4 linked regions of the Homo sapiens genome follow. The protein of the gene in region 2 interacts with the protein of the main gene of each other region in a biochemical or structural test. Each region holds a gene or a part of one and is shown on either strand. Other genes may lie near its edges. The genes, in order: RNF111, UBE2E2, SPEN and ARIH1.

Region 1 (7,025 bases), on a different chromosome or scaffold from region 2:
GAGCCCAAGGCAGGTGGATCGCCTGAGCTAAGGAGTTCAAGACCAACCTGGGCAACTTGGCAAAACCCATCTCTACAAAAAATACAAAAATAAGCCAGGTGTGGTGGTGTGGGCCTGTAGTCCCAGCTACTTGAGGCGCTGACGTGGGAGGACGGCTTCAGCCCAGGAGGTGAAGGTTGCAGTGAACCAAGACTGCATCACTATACTCCAGCCTGAGCAACAAAGCCAGATGCTGCCTCAAAAAAACAAAGGAAAAAAAATTAACCAGTCTTTTTTAGTGACTAGAACTGTTCTTACTATGGCTGAATCCATCATACAGGTAGCTGAAAAAGTATTCATAACAGTCAAGCATATTAAAGAAACACAAGGAAAAAAATGTGTACCATAAATGAAGAACATACATAAAATATAATCTAATATGTATAAAATGTAATAAATGAGGCCAGGTACAGTGGCTCATGCCTGTAATCCCATCACTTTGGGAGGCTGAGGTGGGCAGATAATTTGAGATCAGGAGCTCAAGACTAGCCTGTTCAACATAGTGAAACCCCGTCTCCACTAAAAATACAAAAATTAGCTGGGCATGGTGGTGGGCACCTGTAATCCTGGCTACTTGGGAGGCTGACGCAGGAGAATTGCTTGAACCCAGGAGGCGGAGGTTGCAGTGAGCCGAGATTGCGCCACTGCACTCCAGCCTGGGTGACAAAGTGAGACTCTGTTTCAGAAAAAAAAAAGTAATGAAGGGTTATTCTCCCAAAAAACTCTGACTTATTTTTGTCACTAGAAATTTTTTAAATTTTTATCTTAGCATTAGAGTCATGGTTTAATACTGCAATTGGTAATTTATATGACTTAAAAATAAAAGTTAATAGAACCTGATAGTCCCTTTAAATAAAATCAGTAAGACACAAACAAAAAATTAAGCACAAATGCAATGCAATAGGTTCCATGTTTTACTCAGCTTAAACATTTTTACCTGAGGGAACAGCTGGATTGTTTTGGTGGTTTTCACTGGCAGAAACAAACAAATCTTCTTCTCCTTCAGTTGATGAGCTAGAAGAGGATTCACTGCTGAGGTCATTCTCACTGGAACTACTAGAACTAGGTAGCAAGGCATATTTTCTTCGAGCTAACACTTCTCGTTTCTTCCTCTGCATTAATATCCTCTCTTTTTGTTTCTGTGTCCTCTGTGAGGAATTATTTTTTACAAATCTCTTTCTGCATGGAAGTCTCCGTAACGAACTGCCATGTAAACAGGGTCTTTTCATTAACAATCCCGATACAGATTCTGTCTCAGTCCGAGGCCACTTATGAGACCGTGCACTATGGCTTCTACTTTTAGCATTCAAAATGGTCTGGGAATGTCTTACAGAGACTTCTTTATCCTCATCTGAAGTCACAGTATCAGAATCTCCAAAATGCAGACTAGATGAAGGAGAAGAAAGACAATCACTAAAAGAGGAATCATTATCTTCATCACTTGGTGTCCCTAGGTGTTGCCTCAGTCCTAATATTCCCTGGTTTTCTTTAACACAATTCTGCACATACGAAGGGCCAGCCTGCTGGCTTTTGCGTTTTTTCCTCACAACGAGACTTTTTTCTTGTTCTTGCTGGTTACCATTCATTTCCTTCTCTTGCTTTTGAGAATCATCACACAGGTGAGAGAATTCATTCCCCACTTTACTATTAATCATCTCAACTCCTGCAGGAAAACTTTTGGCTGCCCCAATGGGCTCTGGATGCAAAAGGATCCCTTTCAGACTCTCCTGTGTCTTTGGTGCATCAGAAGGAATCTCACTCTTCATATCCACTTTTAAGGTGTAGAGCTCGTTATATTCAGGAGTCCATTGAGACATGGGAAACTTTAAGGAAAGCCTAGAAGACAAAATTAGATATTTAAAAGATTTTTAATGTGTTTTATTATACTATTTAATTGAAGAGTTCTCAAATTCCACCAAGAAGATCCCTTATAAAGGCAGAACTGTCTTTTCCTCATCAGTACACAAAATGTCTGTTATGAATTATTTTACTATTCTTATAAAACGTTTTTCTCTGGTCACTCTACTCATGCATCCAATTTTTAGAAATACAGTAGATATAGAGCATAAGCCTACTTAAAAACTTCTATTAACCAAAAACTGATCTTATTGCATATCTCACTACCTTCAGCAACAAAACATATTTGGTCAAATCAAACAATTACTTCAAAACCTATTTCAGTGAAATATAAATAAAAGGATTCGAATTCAAAAGACTAATTAGTCAACATGTTTTACTCCTGGTATGACATTTTTAAGTGGTTATTATTAAATGTTTCTGTACATCTAGATGGTTACTACATTAGATTGATATTATTAATAATGAGCTAATGAATATAAGCTTCTCTTTTCTATTTTTTTTCCTTCATACTACTCTATTAATTCTCTAATGAGAATCTGAATTCTCCTGATAGTAGACACAACTACTGCATTTCAGTTTTAAATACAAAAAGATTAGAGCCAAGACTGTGGGCTGCTGAAGATCATTCAGTTAAATAAACAATACAGCAGAACATAAAATCAAACTTTGTACAGCTAATCTATCTAAATCATTCAACATCTTAAATTACGAGCTGCCAAAAAGAGATCTGAATTTAAAGCATTTACATCAATGCAATGTACATATGAAAATAATGTAATAGTAAATATCATGACTCAAAATGAAATATATTAATCAGAAAGGCAGTAAATGTGACAAATGAAGAGCTTTACTAGTGCAAAACATGAATAAACAATGTTAACATATTTTTAACAAGTTTTTATTAAGTATAGCATACACACATATTCTAAGTTTATAGATGAATGAACACTAAAAAAATGAACACCTCTATGTAACTGGCACACAGATAAACAACATAACCAGCACCCTAGAAATCTTCTTCCCATTACTACAGCCCACCAAACTGTTAACCACTATTGTAACTTCTGACACCACAGATTTGTTTTGCCCATAAAATACATTTTGAAACCAGTTCCTAAAAAGCGAGTACAACAGCTGTTTAGTAAGCAAGTATTTTCCCTCTCTACAAATGGGTTACAGAAATATATAATCTTACAGGTCTCCCATGTTACTATAGTATATAACTTTACTATCAGAACAAATGACAATAATTAAGGCATAGAATGACCTATTCCTACAGAAAGCTATCAAAACCACTATCTTCTTTTATTCTTATTCACAAGCACAGGCAGTGCTGTATCCAAGATCAGCCATCACGCGCTATCTGTAGTTCAGCAGGATCAGTGATAAACCAGGAATACAAAGATGAGTGAACATGAGCATGGCAATGAGCAAATTACAGAAGGCAGCCAGTCAGACAAGGATCACTTTAATTAAAGGCAAGAACACAGAAGTCACAATGATAAAACACAGGTACATGTGATCTAAGAGTTGAATGGGGCCAAACAGGATGGCTGTAATAAAGAACACAGGTAATAACAAGTGTTAGAGAGGATGCATAAAAAAAAAACATTGGAACCCTCATATATTGCTGATGGAAATGTAAAATGATACAAGCTACTTTGGGAAGCGGTCTAGCAGATCCTCAAAAATTAAATACAAGCTGGGCGCGGTGGCTCATGTCTGTAATCCCACCACTTTGGGAGGCCAAGGCGGGCGGATCACTGGAGGCCAGGAGTTCGAGATCAGCCTGGCCAACATGGTGAAACCCCATCTCTACTAAAAATACAAAAATTAGCCAGGATAGTGGCGCACTGACTGTAATCCCAGCTACTTGGGAGGCTGAAGCATGAGAATCGCTTGAACCTGGGAGGCAGAGGTTACAGTGAGCTGGGACTGCACCGCTACAGTCCAGCTTGAGCAACAGAGCAAGACTCTATCTCAAGAAAAAAAAAAAAATTAAACACAAAATTGCTATGTGACCTAGCATTTCCACTCCTAGGTATGTACCCAAGAGAAATGAAAACACATATTCATAAAAAAACTTATAAACAGCAACATTAGTCATAACAGCCAAAAAAGTGGGAACACAAATGCCAATCAACTGATGAATAAATAAATCCATACAAAAGATTATTACTCAGCAATAGAAAGAAATGAAGTACGGTAGTCCCTCACTATCCAGTTTAACTTTCCACAGCTTCAGTTACTCACACTATGAGAGAGAGACCACATTCACATAAGTTTTATCACAGTATGTTGTTAGAATTTTGCTACTTTATTGTTGTTGTTAGTCTCTTATTCTGCCTAATTTATAAATTAAACTTTATCATAGGCATGTAGGTATATGAAAAAAAAAACACTATATGGTTTCAGGCATCCACTGGGGGACTCAGAATGGTTTCCCCTTGGACAGGGGCGCAGACTACCATACTGACTCAAGCTACAACATGGATAAACAATATGCTAAGTAAAAGAAACCAGTCAAAAAGATAACATAATGTAAGATTCCCTTTATATGGAATGTCTGGAATAGGCAAATCTACATAGATAGAATGTGGTTACCTAGGGCTGGGGATCATCGGAGGATTCAACTATGATGGCCGAAAAGCATGGAGTTTCTGGCCAGGCGCGGTGGCCAAACCCTACACTTTGGGAGGCCGAGGCGGGCAGATCACCTGAGGTCAGGAGTTCGAGGCCAGCCTGGCCAACATGGTGAAACCCCATCTCTACTAAAAATACAAAAAATTATCCGGGCATGGTGGCGTGCACCTGTAATCCCAGCTACTCAGGAGGCTGAGGCAGGAGAATTGCTTGAACCAGGGAGGCAGAGGTTGTAGTGAGCTGAGATCACACCACTGCACTCCAGCTTGGACAACAAGAGTGGGGAAAAAAAAAAAAAAAGGTGGGCCAGGTGCAGTGGCTCACGCCTGTAATCCCACCACTTTGGGAGGCTGAAGCGGGTGGATCACCTGAGGTTAGGAGTTTGAGACCAGCCTGACCAACATGGTGAAAAGAAACCCTGTCTTACTAAAAATACAAAAATTAGCCAGGCATGGTGGCAGGCACCTGTAATCCCAGCTACTCAGGAGGCTGACGCAGCAGAATCGCTTGAACCCAGGAGACATAGGTTGCAGTGAGCCGAGATTGCGCCATTGCACTCCAGCCTGGGCAACAGAGCAAGACTCTGTCTCCCAAAAAAAAAAAGAAAAAAAGGTATAGAATTTCTTTTATTTTCAGTGAACTGAAAATGTTCTACAACTGATTGTGGTGCCAGCTATTCAACTCTGTGAATATACTAAAAACCCAGTGAAATAAAATCTCAATAAAACTCCTGCCAGAAAGTCAAGAGGTTTAAAAAAAGTGAAAAAGTCAAGAGGAAAAGTATCAAGATTTCTAGGCATCAGAGACTCCATCAGCAACAGAAGTCTCATGATGTATGTTGGAAACAGCTGGGGTTCTTCCAGAAACCCATGTCAGAGTTATGTTCTGGTGGATTTCAGAGGAGGAGATCTTGGAGTCTTTATGGGCTGAAGATTTAAAAATTAGACTCCTCATCCGTAATTACTAAGTCCTCATGTTGATAATGGAGATCATGAGAAGCAATGAAAACTTGCCAAAAACCAGACAAATTCTGAGAACATGCAGCCATACATTAATTTACAAAGAAGCAATTCACAGCACAATTAACTAAACCCAATTTCTTTTCCATCATTTCATGTCCCAAAGCCAAAACAATGCAATCAACTCTTTATGGTTAAATCTGCTCTGATTTTTGATCAGTTTAGTCTGTCCAATGAGACAAGGGTAGAGGAGAGCAAGGGGGGGTGGTTTGGTGTATGCTGTGGTGTGTGTTTGTACACCAGTTAACTCTTCTCTGAGTTAACATATCATGCAGTCATTAAATGCAAAATTAATATCCCATATAACTAAGAGGTTCCCACCCAGGGAGTAATTCATACTATTTTTTTTTCTAAAATCCATCGCTGTATTGTATCATGTTCTAAATTTTTTTTTCTAAAATCCATCCCTGTAATTGTATCAGGCTGTATTTTGAACTTAGAAGAGGAAAGTTCAAAAGGAAATAAACACAAGTATTGCATTTAACTTAAAAAGCAGCAAATATAACAGATAATATTCTAAATTATTTGCTGTTTGATAAAACCATATTCTAGTCTTTTATTTTTGTAAAAATTATTGGCTGATCTAATTTACAAAGGAGGCAAATGCGTACAAGATATATCTCCTTGGTGACATTATAAATGGCTTGCTGTTACACACTGTTTCAATACTGAAACCATAATACTAGTCCCTCTTTGTGTAGATCGATCCAATCATTTCATTGCTATGTCATGATGACTGCATGCTAATTACTCCTGATACTAGTGTAGAATACACCACTATTAGTAAACCTTGCACTAAGAAAATACGATAGCTAAAAAAAAATACTAACTTTCAAAACTAAAAATTAGGGTTGGGATTTAGTAATTCACATCATAAACAAGTTTATGTGAGCAAAAGGAGGAAAAACCCATTAAGACTATCCATACAACTCTGAGGAACTCTACTTCTAAACTGTGATACACTATTATTGGTATGATGCTTCACCACCAATTATAAATATGAATACTTGTTTCAACTTTAAATAAAAATGTAATGATTGCTTACATGACTCTAAAGAAATAAGATTTTAAAAGAAAAAAAAAAAGCCGGCCGGGCACAGTGGCTCACGCCTGTAATCCCAGCACTTTGGGCGGCTAAGGCAGGCAGATCACCTGAGGTTGGGAGTTCGAGACCAGCCTGACCAACATGGAAAAAACCCGTCTCCACCAAAAATGCAAAGTTAGCCAGGCGTGGTGGCACATGCCTGTAATCCCAGCTACTCGGGAGGCTGAGGCAGGAGAATCGCTTGAATCCGCAAGGCAGCGGTTGCGGTGAGCCGAGATCGCGCCATTGCACTCCAGCCTGGGAGACAAGAGCAAAATTCCGACACAAAAGAAAAAAGAAAAAAAAAAAGCCATAGATGACTTGGCATTTTTCTACAAAAGTTTTAGAGATTATCAGAAAATCAACTAGAAATATGTCTA
Region 2 (7,025 bases):
ATTTGGTTTGCTAGTATTTTGTTGAGGATTTTTGCATCTACATCCATCGATCCCTTTTAGTCTTGTTCCCTGTCTCTGTCCTCCCTTTTCTAGGTGGGACTATAAACCCTTTGGCTTCCAGGGTACCCAGTGTAGCTCCATCCATTAAAGAGGCAAGGTGGGAGTTGTCTGAGCCTTTTTCCTCTAGAATCAAAGGTGCACATACCACAGATCTCAAAAAATGCGAAGAGGTAGATTACGCAATATGACAATCTTTTTTTTTTTTTCTGGAAAGACGGTCTCGCTCTTTCGCCCAGCTGGAGTACAGTGGCGCAATCATGGCTCACTGTAATCACGACCCCCTGGGCTCCAGTGAACCTCCTACCTCAGCCTCCCAAGAAGCTGGGACCACAGGTACATGCCACCACACCCAGCTGTTTTTTGTTTTTTTTTTTTTTTTTTTTTTTTTGTAGAGATGGGTTCTCACTGTGTTGCCCAGGCTTGGTCTCAAACTCCTCGGCTCAGGCCATCCTCCTGCCTCAACCTCCCAAAGTGCTGAGATTACAGGCATGAGCCGCTGTGCCCAGTTGGTATGACAGTCTTTCACTCGCTTGCAAATAATAGTGATTGTTAGTTGACAGGTATGTACTCTTTGCTTCTAAATTGTGTAGGGAGACAGAGGTGAGATAGAGGAAGTAGAGGTGAGTAAGAAGAAGGTATGTTCCCCTTCATCAGTGATCTTGCAGTCTTACGCTTTCATTCAGGTTATTATTTTATGACTGGTATTTTGTTAACAAAAATGCCATGATGCTGGCTTGGAGCAGCGGCTCATCCTGTAATCGCACCACTTTTGGAGGCCAAGGTGGGAGGACACTTGAAGCTAGGAATTTAAGACCAGCCTGGGCAACATCTGCCGTCTCTACCAAAAAAAATAAATCAATAAACTGGACATGCTACTGTGTGCCTGTAGTCCCAGCTACTCAAGAAGTTGAGGCAGGAGGATTGCTTGAGCCCAGGGGTCAAGGCTGCAGTGAGCTATGATCCCACCACTGCACTCCAGCCAGGGCAACAGAGTGAGACCCTGTCTCAAAAAAAAAAAAAAAAAAAGACATGATTTTTATTAAACAGATGAGGAAATGTGATTTAGAGGAAAGCTTTGTATACCTAACTTCCATCTCTATGATATTCTGTTAACCACACTGTAGATCCTATACTTCTGCCTCAGGAAACCTCTAATACATGCCGTACTGGTGTTTGGGAGAATTAAGTACTTGAAGTCATCTAACTCTGTTCTGCATAAGTCTGAACATGCTCCTCTTTTCAAAAGTGTAAATAATTTTTGAACAAAAACAGAAAATGTGGGAGGCTTTGATTTCAATTTACTTATCTACTGATAAATTTTGTGGCTTTTCTTTAGTAAAAATGAGGAAAACTGACAGATGATAATCTCAAATATTAATAAAGATTTGGGAAAATAGTAACAATCTAGAAACCCAAAATGATGGGAAATATTTTCTTCTTGTTAGAGAAATAGGGTACAGTAATTTATGTTTGGAGCCTGGCTTGGATGGCAGAGTGAAACTGTCTCAACAAAAAAAAAAAATTATTTGGTTGATAACATGTTTTTTTTTTTTATTACCTTTTAGTGTTGCTAAATTCATGACTTTTATTTACCATTTATTAAGTTTAACATTCTGCTAAGAAACAGTATTTTCAGACTTTCACATTGAAAAGTCCTCCCTTAATTAAGCATATACAATTTACCATTTTCAGCAGAGATCCATTTTCACAACTAGCTCTTCAGGATTATTCCACTGAGCTGAATCTTTATGTGCAGCATATGAAAAAGTAGTTTGTAGCCTTTTTCTCCTTTCATGAAATATTAGCTTAAACATCAGCACTGCTACTGGGGGTAATATTCAGAAAATCATAGGGACATGTAAATTGATATGAGAAGATAGTTACTATGTTGAATAGAATTTTAAGTGAACATCAAATACTAATTGTTAGTGGTCTTTTTTATTTTTTTAGAAACAGAGTCTTGCTCTGTCACCCAGGCTGGAGTGTGGTGGCATGATCACAGCTCACTGTAGTCTTAAACTTCTGGGCTCAAGCGATCCTCCCACCTCAGCCTCTCAAGTAGGCTGGACTACAGGGGCACACCACCACACCTGGCTAATTTTTGTTATTTTTTTGTGGAGTTGGGGGTCTCAGTGTGTTGCCCAGGCTGGTCTTGAACTCCTGGCCTCAAGCTGTCCTCCACCCTCAGACTCCCAAAGTGCTGGGATTACAGACGTGAGCCATCTGACCCAGCCAATAACATGATTTTTTTAATTCCTTCATTGTGTATTTTTACTTTATCCCTTCATTTTATACTTTAAACAAATTTAAGATTTGTATAACTTCCAAAGATGCATGCATGGTAATGGTCCTCACATCGTTGTTTTTAAAACAAAAGTTGGAGAGTACCCAAACATCTAAAAACAGGAAATTCGTTCTTAATTCAGGTATTAGAAATGATGAAGTAGATCTACAATTATCTATGTAAAAAGTTATTTACCATATCGGTATAAAAATCATAGTTATTTTTTAAAAGATTACAAAAGCAGACTATAAATTAATCCCTTTTTTTTTTTTTACATCATGTGATTAGAAGTGTAGGAAGAAAACATACCACGATGTTAACAGCAGTTTTCTTTGCGTGGATTTATACACGAGATGGTCTTTACTTTCAACTTCCTGTCTTGCATATTGTCTGAGGTGGTTTTCTAAATTATTATTAATTACTGTTTTATAGTTAGTGTGTATAATTTTACAGGTGGAAAAAAAATTTTTTAATCAAATTTGAAAACGTAAAAGAACCTTGAAAGCAATTAAATGTTAAGCATGCAAAAAAAAGTTTGCACAACGCACGCTAATTGTTACCAGCACTCTAACTTGTTTTTAATTGTTTCTCCTTTTGCCTGTACTGAAATACTATTAACAGTTGATATGACACATTTTCCCACCCCACAGCTTCTTGTTCCCTTTATTCTTCATTTGTTTCCCTCCACCCCCTTTGAGCTGAAGTGGCAGACCTGTCTTATTCCCAGTGTGTACACTCTGGATGTGGGTACAGTTTGAGGTGGAACATATAAGTCAGTGTTATTCTTCTGACATTGAGCCTTACCTTCATCAGTAAGTTAGAATGGATCTTCAATGTGTTTCACTAATATAAGTTCTATTTAATTAAACACCTATCTTGAGTGATACAGACTTAAACTATTAAGGATGCCCACGTTTCACCCTACTCTTTGCATTCTAGAATGCCAGGAATCAGAACAAGATTACTTTTTTTGAAGGTAGAGAAATGTGACTCAGATTTCACTTTGGCCCCTATTACTCTAATGTCATTACTTAAGCTCAAGTGAAAGGCTACATTTTTAAAAAAGTATCCTGGCCAATTGCCAGATATTTTGTGTCTGTATTTGGTAGTGCTGGTTTAAATCTTGTTGAATCTTGACTGGACTGGGTGAAATGGTAGAGTTTTCATTTCAACATCTGAGAAAATGAAGAAGAATCACAAAGAGTAGGCAGAGAGGCAAACGTTTCGAACAAACCCACATACTAAGTAGTCTACTAATTGTGATATAAGTGAATGTAGGAAACTGGCTTCTCCCTGGAATAATTATTACGAGATTTACACAATTCCAGGAAAACTTAAGCAAGTCTTGTTGAGCAGGCTTTCAAAGGCTTTGTTATCATGAGCTTCAGCAGATAGGTTAAAAAGTGGTGTTTCTATTATACCTTTCATATTGAGAACATATGACCATGAGTGCCTTACAAGGTTAGTCTCAGGATCTTCCCAAGTTGCCGGTGGTGTTGGGCCACAGACGTAGTTCCATATTCTCTACTATTTTTTTCCTACCAAACATTAGCTTTTGATGATTTTTCTCATTTTCCCTAGTGGATCCTCCTTACCTGACTGCTCTAATATACCCAAATTCCCAATACCAAAAATAGGGGAAATATAAATCGGGGAAAGAGTGAAATTAGAGAATTGGAGGGAAAAGAGTAGAATCTGGGATCTTTAGGAACCTAAGTTACTTTTTTTTTAATTGCTTTGCTTTTTGTTTTTTTGTTTTTTTGTTTTTTTTTTTTTGTCTTTTTTTTTAAAGAGGGTCTCACTCTGTCACCCAGGCTGGTATGTGGTGGCACGATCATAGCTCACTACAGACTCAAACTCCTGGACTCAAGCGATCCTGCTGCCTCAGCCTCTTAAAGTGCTAATATTACAAGCATGAGCCACCGTGCCCCAATTTTTTTAATTAAACGTTGACCCAATCAATATTCTGGATAGAGAGCTATCTCCCAGCACCCTGTTAAGTTAAGCACCCTGTTAACTAACAGCACCCTGTTAGTTAAGAGGGTGAACTCTGGCTCCAAGCCCTGCTCCACCCCTTTCTCCACGTTGGGCAAGAGACTCAGCCTCCTTATGCTCCAATTTCCTCCTGTGTCAGCTCCTTAGAAATCCATGTCATTAACATATTAGAGTTTTAGGACATGGTTAGTCATGGTGAGTGTTAGCTATTATTAACATCTATTAGTATTTTTGTAATAATGAGCTATGTAGGTTGGATGTTACCAAATTTTGAGGAAGAAGTGGACCATCTCTCCCCTCTTTTGACTGTCCAGCTCAGACTCTGGCGTCTCCTCAGATAAGGTAATCTGGCAGGAGAATGCCACCTGCCTGTGGTGCTAGCCTAGGGTAAGGAGTTGTCCAGACCGCCAAACGTCTTCCCAGGAGAGCTCATCAAGAGCCCATGAGTCCCCTGCCCACAGCCCACCTGCATTTTCTCCGTGAAATATCTACTTGAAGACAGGCATCTCACACCTGTAATCCCAGCACTTTGGGAGGCTGAGGCAGGAGGATAACTTGAGCCCAGGAGTTTGAGACTATCCTGGACAACATAGTGAGACCCCCAAAATTACAAAAAAAAATTTGAAAATTAGCCAGGTGTTGTTGCACACACCTGTGGTCCCAGCTACTCAGGAGGCTGAGGCAGGAGGAGGATTGCTTGATCCCAGGAGGTCAAGGCTACACTGAGCTGTGATCATGCCACTGCACTCTAGCCTGAGTGACAGAGCAACACCCTGTCTCAAAAGAAAAAAAAAAAAACCAATACGAGGGGAGCAAGGTGAGAAGTATGTGGTGGGTACAGGGAAAGAGAATAAGACTTGTCAAGAAATATGACAAGAGCTATCAGTAAAATACAGATAGGTGACTCTTGGGGCAGCTGGTGTGAAATGTAGTCTGTCAGCAGCAGGTGACTGGCTCAGCCGCAGCAATGGTGGTCCAGGTTAGAACAGCAGCTTCTCATCTCCTACCCTCCCACTCCTTGCCAGCTTTCTGAACACTTCTTCCCCCACAGTGCTGGTATTTACTGACTCCCAACTCTGCTTTCCTTGCAGCTGACCCTCTGGTGGGCAGCATCGCCACACAGTACATGACCAACAGAGCAGAGCATGACCGGATGGCCAGACAGTGGACCAAGCGGTACGCCACATAGGGGCCTGCTGCCTGCCGCCCCGCGGGACCTGTGCAAGCACATTCACCAAGTGCATCGGTAGCCCTGCCCACCCCTCCAGACCTCGGTTCTTATTTTCCTATTTTTATTAAATTTGGAACCATTTTGTGATGGTATGTTGTCCATCTTCCCATCCCAGTTCTTCCTGCCCCCCTTCCTCTCTCCCACGCTCTCTTTTATCTCTCATTTTATTCCCTTGTTGATTTCTGTTAACTTGAAAGATTTGGGATTTTTTCCCACCTCATCATAGATGGGAACTTTTGTTTTCAGTGCAAACAATGTTGGAGCTGTAATAGTAAGAGCTTTCTTACAAAGCTTTGTATTACTGTGTGGTTTTGTTTTTTTTGTTGTTGTTTATTTGATTTTGATTTTTTTTTCTTTTATGTGATCTTTGGGAAAACACATTCAGAATTATATCTCGTTTCTACTTAAATGTAGTGCTTAGGGTTAATTTTTTGTACTGAAGTCTTTATTGGTGGGTGCATGCTACTGGGAACAAGTTTTTGTACAAAAGCTTCAATCAGAATCACTGTGCATTACTGAGACTCTGTTTATCACTAGCCTTCTGTCCCTCCCGCAGAAGACTGTTGGATTGAACAAAATAATATGTATTTTGATTTACTTAAAGTGCTTGTAAATTTCTTAGGGACCTGCCACTTTTGACTGTGGATCAGTTGATGTACACTTGTATTATTAAAGCACTCAATAAATCACTGTGGCTGATAACTGCACTTCTGGTAACCCGACATTTGCTTTGTGTCCTGGTGACCGCTGTAGCCCTACGTGCAGTGAGGCTTGTCTAATTCAATTACAGGTTCAAGTGTATTTTTCATCTCAAACCTCTAATATTTCTTTGGAGTTGAGTTGCTTAGCATGTGGAATTTCTCCAGCTGTCAGTAGCCTGATGATTTTATGGTTGTTATAGTAAATTGCTATCATTTTACATATTGACTGGGCATTCTTTCTGTTACAGCCTTCTTTATCAACAATTAAAATATGTAACTCCAAAAATAGCCTTCTTGTGAAAGTGAAGTCTGAGCTAATCATTGTGTTCAGCCACTTTCAACTTTATTTCTCTCAAAATTGTTACAGTGATTGCCCTCAAGCTTTGTATTGTTCATTTTTGTTGTTGTTGTTGTTGTTGTTGCTGCTCTTTTTTCTCCATGATTTTAGCAAAAGAAGTAAACTCAACTGTATTGGTCACGGTCAGCCCATTCAATGACAAGGGTGTCTGTCTGGCTTCACCTTCAGGCTATTTTAGTGTGCAGCTATAGGAGGCAGAGGAAACGTGGGTGGTGTAGTTTCTAAAACACGCTGACTTGCTGATTGATAATTCAGGGTTATTAGTGTAACAAAGCGTAGTGGAAACTCCTACTCCTGCTGCACCATACAGTTACAGACCCTACCATACTCTTGGTCTCATTTAAGGAACCATTAACACCTTCACTGCTGAAAAGCAGGATTTATAAGCATAAGTCA
Region 3 (7,697 bases), on a different chromosome or scaffold from region 2:
TACTCCTAGTAGCAATCACACATTTTACAAAATATATCCCACAATAGGGATAAAAGGCCTTGAGTTCCTCCAAACAAGGTCCACTTAGCTCCACAGCTGGATCAGCAGGAACATTTCTTGTACATGCAGAAAGATAAACAAGAAACCAGAAATAGACATTACCTGGATTTTGGGGGGTGAGGGGAGGAAGTGTGGCAACTGGGAATTCCAGGGTCAGGGGTGGAGATTTTTCTCTGTATACCTTTCACATGCTTTGAACCCATAAAAATGTACTGTCTATTTAAACAACTAAATAGATTTGTTTAAAAATGAAAAAAAAAAACCTTTAAAATAAAAGAATTTCAGGGACACATGATCTGCTTAGTTTTAAAATAACCTGCTTTTATCAGTAGCATCTGCTTTTACTCTGCAATAGGTAAGATACTCCTTTGAATGCAGTCGTGAGCAAACTGCCAGCTAAGCCGTTTTTAATACAGTAATGTTCCTCCAGACTGCCGCTTTCCAAGGCAGCTCGAATCCTCCGCCCCCTCCTCCCTCTGTGCATTCTGAGATCGGCTCTGCTGATTCCCACATAAAGTGGGTCCTGGCCGCCATTTTAGAAAGTCATTCACACAAGCCAGACCGCAGCACCGTCCACTAAGAACCCTTCCAAAGCTGCCTGGGACGATTTCCTCTTTCTTCTCTCTGCCCCCTCATCTTGCAGAGGGGCCAAACTCCCAGCCATAAGCATGCAATGTCTCTGGAATCTGCATAATGAGAAATGACACGTCTAGGCACATAACACTGAGGAGCGAGCGAATGCTGCAATGCACGTGCTTGTACATCGGTGCATACGAATTTCCCAGGCAGAGACCTACAGAGAAAGTCCACAGGGGATTAAAGTGAGCACATCTAAGTGGTTTTTCCACTCCAATAATGTACACCTAAATGATTTTTCCATCAAAACACTGACGATACTCGAGGAGAAGCCAGGAGGTGGGGGGCGGGTAAGGGGTGGAGCAGCGCCAGGAAGAGAAAGTTCCCATCTGCTTCCCAATCCAGCCCGTGGTCTCCCCTTCATCCTAGGGCACAGAGGTGAATTTTTGCTCCCTGCCTCCCCCCGCCCCCGCCTGGTTTCTCAGGCACGACGTAGTAAACACCGGGAGAGTCCCTGGAAGCGCGCACCTCCCCCCGGCCTGCCGAGGACAGCTCAAGCAGGTTATGAATGGCCCCACGATTCCCGGCTCCTTTTCACACGCGGACACGCGCAGACGCGCGCTCCAGCGGCGAGGGTTTAATGCCCCAGTAACAGCAACCACCAACACAATCAATGATCCTCCATTTAAAAGACAGGAGCTCCGCCGCCGCTGCTTCCATTTCCTTATCCAAGCGGCTCAAAGCGAGCGACGCAATCTATTTTTCCCATGGTGACTCATTAATGAGGACGCTCCATAATTTCCTTCACTCACTACATAGTAAGGGAAATTAAAAGCCAAACTTAAAACCTTCCAGGGTCTTAAATATCGGAATAAACTGTCATTTTCGAGGACAACCACAGATTTGCTATGGTCCCTCTGAATCTGCACCAAGTCCAAGCCAATCGTCATTTTAATAAGTGTTTTATGCGGAGGCCTATCTGTTACGGTACACAGGCATTTCACAAAGAAAACGCACTACACGCTACTCAATAAGATGTATCAACGACAACATTTATTCTTATAATTCACAAAAATATTCAGGGGAGGTTTTTTTTTTAAGCTACATCTTCTCATCGTAAAAGGTTTGGAATGTTTTACCGTTTGATTCGGGAATTCAGGGGTGGGGGGCACCAGGGTCTTAGGGCGGCCTGGGAGTGCGACCCGAGGCTACGGGCGCCGGGGCTAGCAACCTCCTGTCAGACGCGGTCTCCTCCGCCGGGGACGAGGAAGCCCAAACGGGCGCACCAACTTATTTCACACCACTCTCCACCCAGCCCCGCAAAAACGAGAAACGTTTGCCATTCCCAGTGAGTTTCAAGGCTGCAAATCCTCCGGAGAGGTCCTAGATGGTCTCTCCGGGTCCGCGACGCGACCACAGTACCTACTGCGACTTCTGTTTTCGCACCGCCTTTCCCTTCGCACGGAACCCTCCCGAAGTCAGACATTGCCGAGCGCCCGCAGAGCAGCTTGGAGTGGCGGCGCCGGACCCGGCTGTCGGGCGGGCTCGGGTCCCGGCTGCTCCGGGCCGGGCACTGCGCGCAAGGACGCGACCCCGCCGCCCAGCGCATCTCCCACCGACTCCCGGGCTGACGCGAGGGCAGCCCCGGGGCGCCGGCTGCGTGGAGGCCGAGCCTCGGTCACCTCCCTCGTCACGGACGCGGCCGCCGGGGCCCCGCGGGCTCTTCGAAGGCGGCGCGGCTTGGCCGCCCGCACCGCCGACACCCGAGGCCCAACGCCGCGACGCGGGCCGAGCGGCTGACGAGGTCCCACAGCGCCCGTGGGTCCGGGCCGGAGTCCTCCTCACCAGCTCCGCGCTCCGGGAGGGGCCGGCAACGGGCCGGGGCGGGAAGCGGCGCCCGAGGAGCGAGCGCGGCCGCGGGCCTCGTGTCACTCACCGTTTGAAATGCTCGATGATCTTCTCTTCCCGCACGTTCTCGGGTAAGTTGCCCACCCAGAGATGCCTGGTTTCCCGGACCATGCTGGGCGGCGTGCCGGCGACCGCCGCTGCTGGCTCCCCCTCGCCGGCTTCGTACGAGACCGTCAGCGCCGGGAGGCGGGTGCCGGGGCGGCGGCGGCGGCGGCTGCGGCGGTGGCGTCGGCAGCGGCGGCGGCTCCTCCGGCTCCCCCCCGTGCAGAGACCATCCCTCTCCCCCAGGTTCTGACTCTCGGGCCTCGCAGCTCAGCTCTGCCGCCACCACACACCCGAAGCCGACCCTCGCGCTCCGGCAGCGCATGCGCCCGGGCAGGGGCGGGCGGGGGAGCGGGAGGAGGGGCGAGCGGGACACGGGCGGCAGCGACTACGACGGAGCTGGCGCTGTGGCAGCCGGACGCTTCCCACTGGCGCGCGCGGCCCGACTCCCGCCGCCGCACTGCCTCCCCCTCGCCGCGGGCGCGCGCGCGTCCTCCCGCCTGCCAAGGCGGAGAAGCTGAGTTCCTCCCAGCCGGCGCGCAGGCGCGCGGACCGGGCGACGAAGTGAGGGACTACAGGCGGGGAAGGAACGCTCGCGCGCTCGGCCCCGGTGCGCAGGCGCGCAGCTGCTAGTGGAGTCCCGCTGCTTGGCGGGCTCTCGGTCGGGTTCCCGCGCCGGGCAAGGGGCGGCTGAGGAAGCAGGAGCGGTCTTTAGCCCCTCCAGCGGCAACCCCAGGCCCCGGCCTGGTGGAAGATATGAAGAGAAATGCAATTGGTTTCCACAGGGCTACGGGTCAAAGCGGCTGCCAAGGCCTGTCCCCTAGAAGTCAGGACCCCTTCGTCCTCCGCTCACCTGGCGGCCAGCTCCTGGCGTTTCCGGACACTTAGATTCCTGCCTGCTTGGGAAAGCGATCAGAAAAAGGTTGCCCTTCTCACCGCTCTGCTGAACAGCGACGGCTTCAGAAACGCATCCCATCCAAGAGTCACTGGCTTGTAACATGAAGCAACTTTTTTTTTTTTAATACGGGGTCTCGCTCTGTTGCCCAGGCTGCTGGAGTGCAGTGGCACGGTCTCGGCTCACTGCAATCTCCGCCTCCCAGACTCAAGCGATTCTCCTGCCTCAGCCTCCCAAGTAGCTGGGATTACAAGCACCCGCAACCACACCTGGCTAATTTTTGTATTTTTATTAGAGACAGGGTTTCACCATGTAGGCCAGGCTGGTCTTGAACTCCTGACCTCAGGTGATCCGCCCGCCTCGGCCTCCTAAAGTACTGGGAGTACAGGCGGGAGTCACTGCACCTGGCCTAAGCAACTTTTTTATATAGAATCTTGCGAAACCGTTTGCAAGATACCCTTGCTGATCGCTGTGGTATAGAAGGAATAAAACGGAAATGAGACAGGAATCCAATATTGTTCCCCTCAGACCATAATTTAATATTTAAACAGAGAAAGGAATTAGACCTCTGGCCTTTCCAGGCCTAAGAGCTTTTGAAACCTACAGTTGAACTTTCTTTTTTTTTTTTTTTCCTTTGAGACGGAGTTTTGCTTTTGTTGCCCAGGCTGGAGTGCAATGGTGTGTTCTCGGCTTACTGCAACCTCTGTCTCCTGGGTTCAAGCGATTCTCCTGCTTCAGCCTCCTGAGTAGCTGGGATTACAGGCATGCGCCACCATGCCCGGCTAATTTTTGTATTTTTAGTAGAGACAGTTTCTCTGTGTTGGTCAAGCTGGCCTCGAACTCACAACCTCAGGTAATCCACCCGCCTCAAGCCTCCCAAAGTGCTGGGATTACAGGCTTGAGCCACCACGCCCAGCCTCTTTTTTTTTTTTTTTCCTGAGACCAAGTTTCACTCTTGTTAGCCAAGCTGGGGCACAATGGCGCTGTCTCAGCTCACTGCAACCTCCGCCTCCCAGGTTCAAGCGATTCTCCTGCGTCAGCCTTCCGAGTAGCTGGAATTACAGGCGCGCACCACCACACCAGGCTAGTTTTTTGTATTCTTAGTAAAGACGGGGTTTCACCATGTTGGCCAGGCTGGTCTTGAACTCCTGACCTCAGGTGATCTGCCCACCTTGGCCTCCCAAAGTGCTGGGATTACAGGCGTGAGCCACCATGCCCGGCCAGTTGAACTTTTATATAAAGGCCAATTTACAGAAATTCAAGGAAAACCCATAAAATTAAGGTAACTATATCGAGAGAAAAATAAAATTATTTATAATAAAAATACACAGAAATACCAGAGGTGTGCTGCTTCAGGTGCAAGCCAGATTTTTTTTTTTTTTTTTTTTTTTTTTTTGGAGACGCAGTCTCACTCTGTCACCAGGCTGGAGTGAAGTGGTACCATCTCTGCTTACTGCATCCTCCGTCTCCCGGGTTCAAGCAATTCTCCTGCCTCAGCCTCCCAAGTAGCTGGGACTACAGGCGCAAACCACCACGCCCAGGTAATTTTTTTACGTTTAGTAGAGGCGGGGTTTCACCATGCTATCCAGGATGGTTTCGATCTCTTGACCTGGTGATCTGCCCACCTCAGCCTTCCAAAGTGCTGGTATTACAGGCATGAACCACCAGCCCAGCCAATTTTAAATACTTGGCCTCATCGATTATCTCCTTAAATACAAACTAACTTACAAACGACACTATTTGAATTCGAAAATATTGTCACCAAAACCAATGGCACTAATATCTCAGGTCACCTATGCATAACTAAATTGTTTCTTTGTAGTCTCAGCTACTGGAGAGGCTAAGGCAGAAGCATCATCTGAGTCCAGGAGTTCCAAGCTGTAGTGCACTATGATTGTGCCTTGAAAAGCCCCAGCACTCCAGCCTCAGCAACATAGGAGAAACCCCTCTCTTAAAAAAAGAAAAAAAAAAGTAAAATTGGCTATTTACATCTGGCCATTTCTCTGTCACAATTATCACATAAGGAAAGTCAAGCTAACACCCTACTAACGAAACTCATGAACTATTCAGTACTGTGAACGTGGCTGCAGTTAGTCAACTGTTGAACTGATATGCATTTTTCTATGAAGCATGAATTTGAATACAAGCACCCAAGTTTGAAGCAAATTTTAAAATCTGATGTAAAATCTGATAGACTGAATTAGCTGAAACCTCTTGGGAAAGACCAGTGTCACCATGAAGAACAGTGTCACCTCAATTGTATTAAAAGGTGCAACTGACAAGAGGATTCAGAAAAGTGTCTCGCAATTAGAGAAATAAAAGGCATGTCTCGCCTTGAATGGAGGCTTCTGTTAAAATCATGATTTTAAAAAAAAAAAAAAAAGAGCCGGGTGCGGTGGCTCACGCCTATAATCCCAGCACTTTGGGAGGCTGAGATGGACGGATCACCTAAGGCCAGGGGATCAAGACCAGCCTGGCCAACGTGGTGAAACCTGGCCTCTACTAAAAATACAAAAATTAGCCTGGCGTGGTGGTGCTCACCTGTAATCCCAGCTACTCGAGAGGCTGAGGCAGGAGAATCACTTGAACCCGGGAGGCAGAGGTTACAGTGAGCCGAGATCGTGCCACTGCACTCCAGCCTGAGCGACAGAGTGAGACTCAGTCTCAAAAAAAAAAAAAAAAAAAAAAAACCATTTTCACCATTATAGCCAGGTCCTGTAGTCAAATCAGGATATAGTGATTGCATGTCAAGTATGAAGTTTCTTGCTTTTTTTTTTTTTTGGTTGACTGTTTCTATTGCAAAAGCTCTTAATAACAAAACTGATAAGTACATGCCCTTTGCTCAGCCCCAAATCAAGTTTTTGATTTTCTCAGTGCTTTTCATTTTTGCTGACAATGCATCAAAAAACACCAGAAAAGCTTTTCTCCATTTGTATTCCTGTTACAAAGCTTTACAGGGGCAGAACTTCTTTAAAGCATGTATCTTTGTTATGTTTTCAATAGAAAGGCAACCCACTCTGTTATTCTCTGATGTTTTTTTATTTAACAATAATTGATGCTCACTGAAAAAGATCAAAAAGTAGGTTGTGATTTATCTATGATAAACGGATGGTGAAGTGAATTTCCTCATTTGATTACTAAAGATAATTCAGAAAGCTGACATTAAAGCAGAGCCATTTGCAAAGTGGAATTAAAATAGATTTGTTTTTAATCAGGTTTTATTTTCACACTGTGAGGAGCTGCTGTATTTAGCATGCTAGACATGCTCAAAGAGTTCAGTCATGCGTAATGAAAGCTCAGATGGAAAAAGCGTCTGAGCCTCCAACTCAGGCTTTGAATGCTAACCCAGCCAGTAGAGTAGTAAAATAATATCTCCATTTAAACAGGACAGGATAGTTATCAGATTTTAACAAGAATTTGGTTACAAGTCAGGTCCCAAGCTATTAAAATTAAGCTGTTTCAGGAGAAAACATGCACTTAAAATATAAGCATTTTGGCCGGGCCTGGTGGCTCACGCCTGTAATCCCAGCACTCTGGGAGGCCGATCATAAGGTCAGGAGATCAAGACCATCCTGGCTAACACAGTGAAAACCCATCTCTACTAAAAATACAAAAAATTAGCCGGGCATGGTGGTATGCACCTGTAGTCTCAGCTACTCGGGAGGCTGAGGCAGGAGAATCGCTTGAACCCGGGAAGCAGAGGTTGCAGTGAGCCCAGATCACGCCACTGCACTCCAGCCTGGGCAACAGAGCGAGACTCTGTCTCAAAAAAAAAAAAAAGAAAAAAATATATATATATGCATTTCTTCTTTTTTTATTTTGAGACAGTCTTGCTCTGTTGCCCAGGCTGGAGTGCAGTGGCGTGATCTGGGGTCACTACAACCTCCACCTTCCAGGTTCAAGAGATTCTTGTGCTTCAGCCTCCTGAGTAGCTGGGACTACAGGTGCCTGCTACCACGCCCGGCTAATTTTTGTGTTTTTAGTAGAGATGGGTTTTCACCATGTTGGCCAGGCTGATCTCGAAACACTGACCTCAAGTGATCCACCTGCCTAGGCCTTCCAAAGTGCTGGGATTACAAGTGTGAGCCACTGCGCCCAGCCCAAAATATAAAAATAAAATAAAATATATATAAAATATAAAAAAAATTCTTCTTTTTTTCTTTTGAGATGGAGTCTTGCTCTGTCGCCCAGGCTGGAGTACAATGGTGCCACCTCA
Region 4 (7,025 bases), on a different chromosome or scaffold from region 2:
CCACCACACCTGGCTAGTTTTTTTGGTAAAATTAGCCCCAGTACAGACGGGGTTTCTCCATGTTGCCCAGGCTGGTCTCGAATTCGTGAGCTCAAAGCAATCTGCCTGCCTCAGCCTCCCAAACTGCTGGGATTACAGGCATGAGCCACTGTGCCCAGCCTGGAAAAAAAATCCACTTCTAATCTAGCAAATTTTGTGTTCTTGTTTACTATTTTAGCATTAATAACACCAAGTGACTAACATTCTCCTCATGAGCGCTATGCTAGGAATAAAAGCTTGCCACGGTGGAATTATCTAAACTAGAAGAAATCAATACCATGGATCCCAACAAAAATCAACAAAAGGGACCACATGTTCATTTTATCTGATATATTTCTGGAAAAAAATGTTTGCCATAGCAAAATGGAGACGGGGAGCCAAGCAGCAAAATACATCCGTAGTGAGGTACAGAAAACAGTATCCACTAGAAATCTTTTCAGGAAGGGTGCCATTTTGGGTTGGAGAAACTCCTTGAAAGTTAATTTGGGGGAGAAGGAGAGTCCTTGAGGGACCAGGGTAAGGTCAGAACGTTTCCTGGGAGAAAGGGGGAACATTTCTCTGGCTAATAAGGGCACAGTGCCGGACAGGGTGAAGAAGAAAAAGTCAGTCAAGAGTGGTACATTTCAGAGCATGAAAGGCCTCACACTGCATAAAATAGACTACACCTTAAGACTTCCAATTTTCAGTAAGACTCTTAGGCCCATATAAAATTCAGGAGCCTGTGGATTTTTTGGTGTGGAAACCACTGAAGAGGCAGATTGTACATCTAAATTGCAAGGGCGAGACTTAAGTATGAATTGGGAATTTAGAGTGTAGCAAATTAGTCAGACATTAGATAATAAGTAAGCAAAGTTTATGAACAATTCACCAAGAAATACAAATGGCTCTTTAACATATGAAAATATAACTGTGCAAGGAAAAAAAACATGCAAATTAGTTTCCAAGAGATACTTTCCATTTCTTGCATTGGCAAAGAACAAAAATTTCACTGACATAATTGTGAGGACAAATGCATTCACTAGTGGGAATTCATAAAACTTCCATTGAGAGCAGTTTGGCAATAACTACCAAAATTAAAAATGCACATAATCTTTAACTGAATTATTTCAATTCTAGTAATTTATTCTATAGGCATAGATGTGGGAAATGACTTTACATACAAAGGTATTCAATGCAGCATTATTTGTAATAACCAATGCCTAAAACCAACCTAGATAGAGGTTAAATAAATTATAAGTCCATATTATATGGCGCATGAAAAAGAAAGAGGCAACTATTTACATATTAATATTGAATAATTGCCAAGATATATTATTAACAGATAAAGTGCAGAAAATGCATATAGTATCTGTATTAATAAAAAGGCAAAAATAAAGAGGAATATTATATACATAATTGCTTGTATACTTAGAAAATATTTCTGGAAGGATATTCAAAATGCTAAAAGTGGTTCTAAAGAGGAGAACTGGGTAGCGGGGGGACAGGGAAGAGAAGACTTTTTACTCTATACCTTTAATACATTTTGAATTTTGTACTATATGGATGTATTACCTACTCCAATAATAGCGACTAAGAAAGTGAAAAGCACAACATACCAAGAATTGTGATAAATGCTAAGAAGGAGAAATATAGAACAGTTAGAACAAACAATGGGGAGCCAATCTAGACTTGTTTGGACAGGGAAATTTTTCCTGGGTAAGAGATGTTTAAAATGAGACCTAAAGGGTAAGGCATTAGCTTAGGGAAAGGGGATGAAGACATGTGCAGGCCAGGAAAGAATTCTAAGGCAAAGGAAGAACTTGTGCAAAGGCCCTGAGGATGGAAGAATCTCAGCCAGTTTGCAGCACAGAATGAAGACCAGTGTGAAAAGAGAAAAAGGTAACAGGGTTGGTTGCAATAGGAGAAGAGGTAGGAGTGCAGATCCACAAAGGCCATATGAGGAATTTTATTTTAAGGGCATTGGGAAGGCACTAGAGAATTTTGAGCAAGGAATGGCATGGTCAGAATGAACACTTAATAAACTCATGTTAGCTCATGAGTAGAGACTGAATTGGGAGGGGGACAAAAATTGATAATCTAGGGTAAACTAAAGGATGCTGCAAATGAGATGATGAAACACTTCACTTGGACTAGTGTGATGGCAAAGGAGATGGAGAAAAAGTAAATGGGTTCTCAAGTTTAGAGGTGGAAAAACCTCCAATACACATGATTGGATATGGGGGAATGAGGGAAAGGGAAATGGATGTTAAAGGAAGATTGCCAGGTTTCTTACTTTGAAAGCTGCTGGATGAGTGGTACAGCCAATTACTGAAATGGGAAGACTTAAGGACAAAGATGTTTGTAGAAAGCTCATGAGGCTGTTTCCCAATATGTGAAATCTCCCTGAAAGGGGTCCTGTGAGGAGCAAATGACATTCTTTATTCAATAACTAGAAGCCATTGCTATAATGTTTCAAAATCTCTCCTTTGACCTCAGATCTTGTGAGGAAGATAGAACACTTTCTGTACCAGGGCCTTTTTCAATAAGAAAGGACATTGGTTTCTCAAATTGCAATCACTAAACCTAATGTACTTTAATTATATACATAATTAGAACAATCTCTTTTTAAAAAAACATAATAGGTTGGATACTATGGTTCACACCTGTAATCCCAACACTTTGAGATGCTGAGGCAGGAGGATTGCTTGAGCCCAGGAGTTCAATACCAGCCTGAGCAACATAGTGAGACCCGTCTCTACAAAAAATTTTAAAATGAGCCTGGCATGATGGCATGTGTCTGTAGTCCTAGCTACTTGGGAGACTGAGGAGAGAGGCTCTCCTGAGCCCAGGAGCTCAAGGTTGCAGTGAGCTATGATTGCACCACTGAACTCCAGCCTGGGTGACAGAGTGAGATCCACTGTAAAACAAACAAACAAGAAGTATGTTCACAGGAAAATCCCAGAAATCACATAGAACATGTTTCTTGTGTCACAGATGGATCTTCATTTCCCTTAGCAAATCTCCTCAAATGTGACCCTGCTTATCAAGATTATTCAAATCATATAGCTGTGCTGGGCATACAAAAAAAATGGCATTTATCTATTTTTATGGTGGGGGCTGAGGACATAGAAGAGGAATCAGGCATCGGTAACTTTTCAACACCCCCAATATATGTATAAACAAGGAGCTACAGTTGAGTTTTTACATTTTTAATGTTTTATCATTTGTACTGACAAGGTCCATAGCCAGCTTTGTTCTGATGCCACCTGCTGGACAAGTCTGTAACATCTTATTTCTCTTTGGAAGTGTCCAGTCCTCCCAAAACCTATACCACAAACGCTTGAGAGTCCAGCCAACACTGGGAAATATCACTTCAAAATAATATGAAGCTTCACTGGACTTCATGGAGGATTTTCAGTATGCCTATTCTTGATGCTACAGATATACTCAATAGCAATCAATGGTGAATGTGGACAAAGGCATAATACTGCATTGTTTGTGAGAAAAAATACTGGAAACATGGAAATGTCCATCACCAGTAACTGTTTAAATAAACTAAGATACATCCATATTAAGACATATTATGCAGCCTGTAAAAGTCCTCAGGTTGTTAAAATAGTTACATAAAACAAATAAAGTGTAGAAAATATAGTATGCTTCCATTCATGTTTAAAAAAATAATAAGGGGGAGGCCAGGTGCAGTAGCTCACGCCAGAACTATGAGAAGTCGAGGTAGGAGGCCAGGAGTTTGAGACCAGCCTAGGCAGCACAGTGAGACCCCTGTCTCTACAAAAAATAAAAAATAAAAGGAAGAGATATTGACACATTTTAGAAATACAGTTTGGAAAAGAAAACACAACCAACTGGTAAGATATTTGTCTCTGTGGAGGGAGTAGAGGCACTAGGGGAGTTAAGATGGGAAGGTGTTGCTTTTCTTTATGATTCTACAAAATTTAACTTTGTATTATCCATGTACTTTTACTTTTGAAAACAGTTAATGAGGCCAGGAGCGATGGCTCACACCTGTAATCCCAGCACTTTGGGAGGCTGAGGCGGGTGGATCAACTGAGGTCAGGAGTTGGAGACCAACCTGGCCAACATGGTGAAACCCTGTCTCTACTAAAAATACAAAAATTAGCTGGGTGTGGTGGCGGGCGCCTGTAATCCCAGCTACTCAGGAGGCTGAGTCACGAGAATCACGAGGCAGAGGTTGCAATGAGCCTAGATCGTGCCACTGCACTCCAGCCTGGGCAACAGAGCCAGACTCTGTCTCAAAAAAGAAAAAAATACTAGCTAATGAAATATGTAAATAAAACCATTGTTTAAACTCCCATTCCTAACCAGGCATGGTGGCTCATGCCTTTAATCCCAGCACTTTGGAAAACCAAGGTGGGAGGATCACAGGCAACATAGCGAGACCCAAACTCTACAAAAAAAAAAAAGCCAGGCATGGTGGCACATGACTGTGGTCCCAGCTACTCAAGAGGCTGAGGCAAGAGGATCACTTGAGCCCAGAAGGTCAAGCCAGCAGTGAGCTATGATCATGTCATGGCACTCAAGCCTGGGTGGCAGTGAGACGTGTTTAAAAAAAAATTTTTTTTTTTTTTTTTGAGAGGGAGTCTTGCTCTGTCACCCAGGCTGGAGTGCAGTGGCACAATCTCGGCTCACTGCAACCTCCGCCTCCCAGGTTCAAGCAAATCTCCTGACTCAGTCTCTCAAGTAGCTGGGATTACAGGCGCCCACCACCACACCTGGCTAATTTTAGTATTTTTAGTAGAGTTGGGGTTTCACTATGTTGGCCAGGCTGGTCTCAAACTCCTGATCTCAGGTGATCCACCTGCCTCGGCCTCCCAAAGTGCTGGGATTACAGGCATGAGACACTGTGCCTGACCTAAAAAAATTTTTTATTAAAAAAATAAACTCCTACTTCTGAAATTCACTAGTGATATGAACAAAGTCACAAGGAATATACCTCCCACTCTAGCAAACAACAACAAAAGGCCAGATGAGCTAGAAAATAAAACATATGTTTAATTCATCAGAAAGCTAAGGACACAAAGAAATCTAGGTTGGGTGCAGTGGTTTATGCCTGTAACCCCAGGACTTTGGGGTGCTGAGGCAGGCAGATCGCTTGAGCTCAGAAGTTTGAGATCAGCCTGGGCAACATGGTAAAACCCTATCTCAACAAAAAATACAAAAATTAGCCGGGTGTGGTGGTACACGCCTGTAGTCCCAGCTGCTCAGGAGGCTGAGGTGGGAGGATCAACTGAGCCAGGAAGGCAGAGGTTGTAGTGAGCTGAGATCACTACAGGCTGTACTCCAGGCTGGGTAAGAGTGAGACCCTGTCTCAAAATAAAAACAAAAACCAAAGAAACCTAAATGATCCAAACTCCAGAAAGTGCCAAGTCCTTCATAGGAGAGAAGAGACCCCCTAGCTGTTGTTATTCCTAGTTGAACTATGGTAGGAAGAGGAATACTACAGGGGGGAGAAAAGAGAAACCTGCTGAAATTTAACAACATTTTCACAACCCCTTGGAGGCTGGTTTGACATTAGAACCTAGATGACCCAAATCCACAGAGGAAGGCTTCCCACCAATCTTACCCCTTAGATGATAACCAGGTACAGGAAGGTGTAGTACACTAAAGGTGTGGATAATAGAAGGAACGCTGAGAGAGCTTGACTTCTCCCAAGGGCAAAATACCCTTTAAAAATGAAAGGGGAGGCAGGATTGTTGTGAAATCCAACAGAGGCACTCTTGGAGCCTAAATGGGGTCAGAAATGCTGAGAAACCCATCCCCTAGGCATTGTGGGCATTCCTCTACAAAAGGGCAGGGCACACATGAGAGCTGAGAAAGATCCTCCTATCCCCAGCCCATTGATTAAAAAAAAAAATCCTGGCAGCAAGGTTGTAAAGTAGGGAAAGATCTCCCACATTGATAAAAGCTGGTGGCTTAGCTATGAAGCAAAGTCAGATCTCTGGAATCTTGCCAATGCCCAAAACTCAGGCCCTGGTGATATGAGAGTTCTGATTCTACGTTCCTTCAAATATTTGAAGCTAGAGGCAAACTGAATCAAACTAAAACTGCAGTGAAGCCCCAGTCTAGAATTCATATACATCAGATTGAGCCACCATTCAAGTGGCCTGAAAAAAAAACAAAGGGCATGCTCTGTTTTGGAAGTAAACATTTTCTTCAATTTCTTTTTTTTTTCAACATAAAACGTCCATCATCCAATCAAATATACAAGACGTGCAAAAGCAAGAAAATAAGATTCATGGTAAGGGAGAGGAAGGGCTCAATAGAAGCAGAACTAGAAAAGACCCAGATGTTGAATTATCAGTTTGGATCCTTAAAATAACTGATTAAAAATGAAAGAAAAAACAGAAAAAACCCAATAAAATAACTGATTAAAATGCTAAAAAGTAGAATGGAAAATGTGGAAAACATGCATGAAGAAATAGGAAATTTCAGCAGAAAATTGTAACTATACAAATATAATGAAATGCTAGAAATAAAAATATTAGAAATGAATAATTCAGTACAACTATGTATCCATAAATAACTAAAAATAAAAATTTTTAAATGGAGAATTCAATAAACAAGTTTAACAGGTTAACATTGGAAAGCATCAAAAAACTTAAAGATGGTTAAATGGAAAGTATCCAAACTGAAAACAAAAAGAAAACAGGGCAGGGGAAAAATCATCTGAGATCTGTAGGTTTATATCAAATCATCTAATATACATGTAACTAGAATCTCCAAAGAAGAGGAGAAGCAAGAGAGTATGAGACAAGAGAAAAATGTAAACGGATAACGGCCAAGAAAGAACCAATATTAATGAAAGACATCAACACAGATCCAAGAAGTTCAGTAAACTCTATACAAAGAAAAACATACCTAGACATTCCCTAGTCAATCTACTGAAAAGTAAATATAATGCACAGATGCAGCCATTGAGAACAACCACACATTACGGAAAGGAAATAAAAATTAAAATGATGAATGAC

What was found.
Region 1: the proteins of UBE2E2 (region 2) and RNF111 form a complex in vitro, tested with the Homo sapiens proteins (one study listed by BioGRID).
Region 3: the proteins of UBE2E2 (region 2) and SPEN form a complex in vitro, tested with the Homo sapiens proteins (one study listed by BioGRID).
Region 4: the proteins of UBE2E2 (region 2) and ARIH1 form a complex in vitro, tested with the Homo sapiens proteins (one study listed by BioGRID).

What each region holds. Positions count from the first base shown.
Region 1 is NC_000015.10:59,025,654-59,032,678, reverse strand, and holds part of RNF111 (E3 ubiquitin-protein ligase Arkadia), read right to left. Parts: intron 1,876-7,025; coding exon of another isoform or gene 1,857-1,875; coding exon 977-1,856; intron 1-976. UniProt on the Homo sapiens protein: E3 ubiquitin-protein ligase. Required for mesoderm patterning during embryonic development. Acts as an enhancer of the transcriptional responses of the SMAD2/SMAD3 effectors, which are activated downstream of BMP.
Region 2 is NC_000003.12:23,584,304-23,591,328, forward strand, and holds part of UBE2E2 (ubiquitin-conjugating enzyme E2 E2), read left to right. Parts: intron 1-5,430; coding exon 5,431-5,528; 3' UTR 5,529-7,025.
Region 3 is NC_000001.11:15,843,026-15,850,722, reverse strand, and holds the start of SPEN (msx2-interacting protein), read right to left. Parts: upstream 3,017-7,697; 5' UTR 2,656-3,016; coding exon 2,573-2,655; intron 1-2,572. UniProt on the Homo sapiens protein: May serve as a nuclear matrix platform that organizes and integrates transcriptional responses. In osteoblasts, supports transcription activation: synergizes with RUNX2 to enhance FGFR2-mediated activation of the osteocalcin FGF-responsive element (OCFRE).
Region 4 is NC_000015.10:72,596,317-72,603,341, reverse strand, and holds the end of ARIH1 (E3 ubiquitin-protein ligase ARIH1), read right to left. Parts: 3' UTR 355-7,025; downstream 1-354. UniProt on the Homo sapiens protein: E3 ubiquitin-protein ligase, which catalyzes ubiquitination of target proteins together with ubiquitin-conjugating enzyme E2 UBE2L3.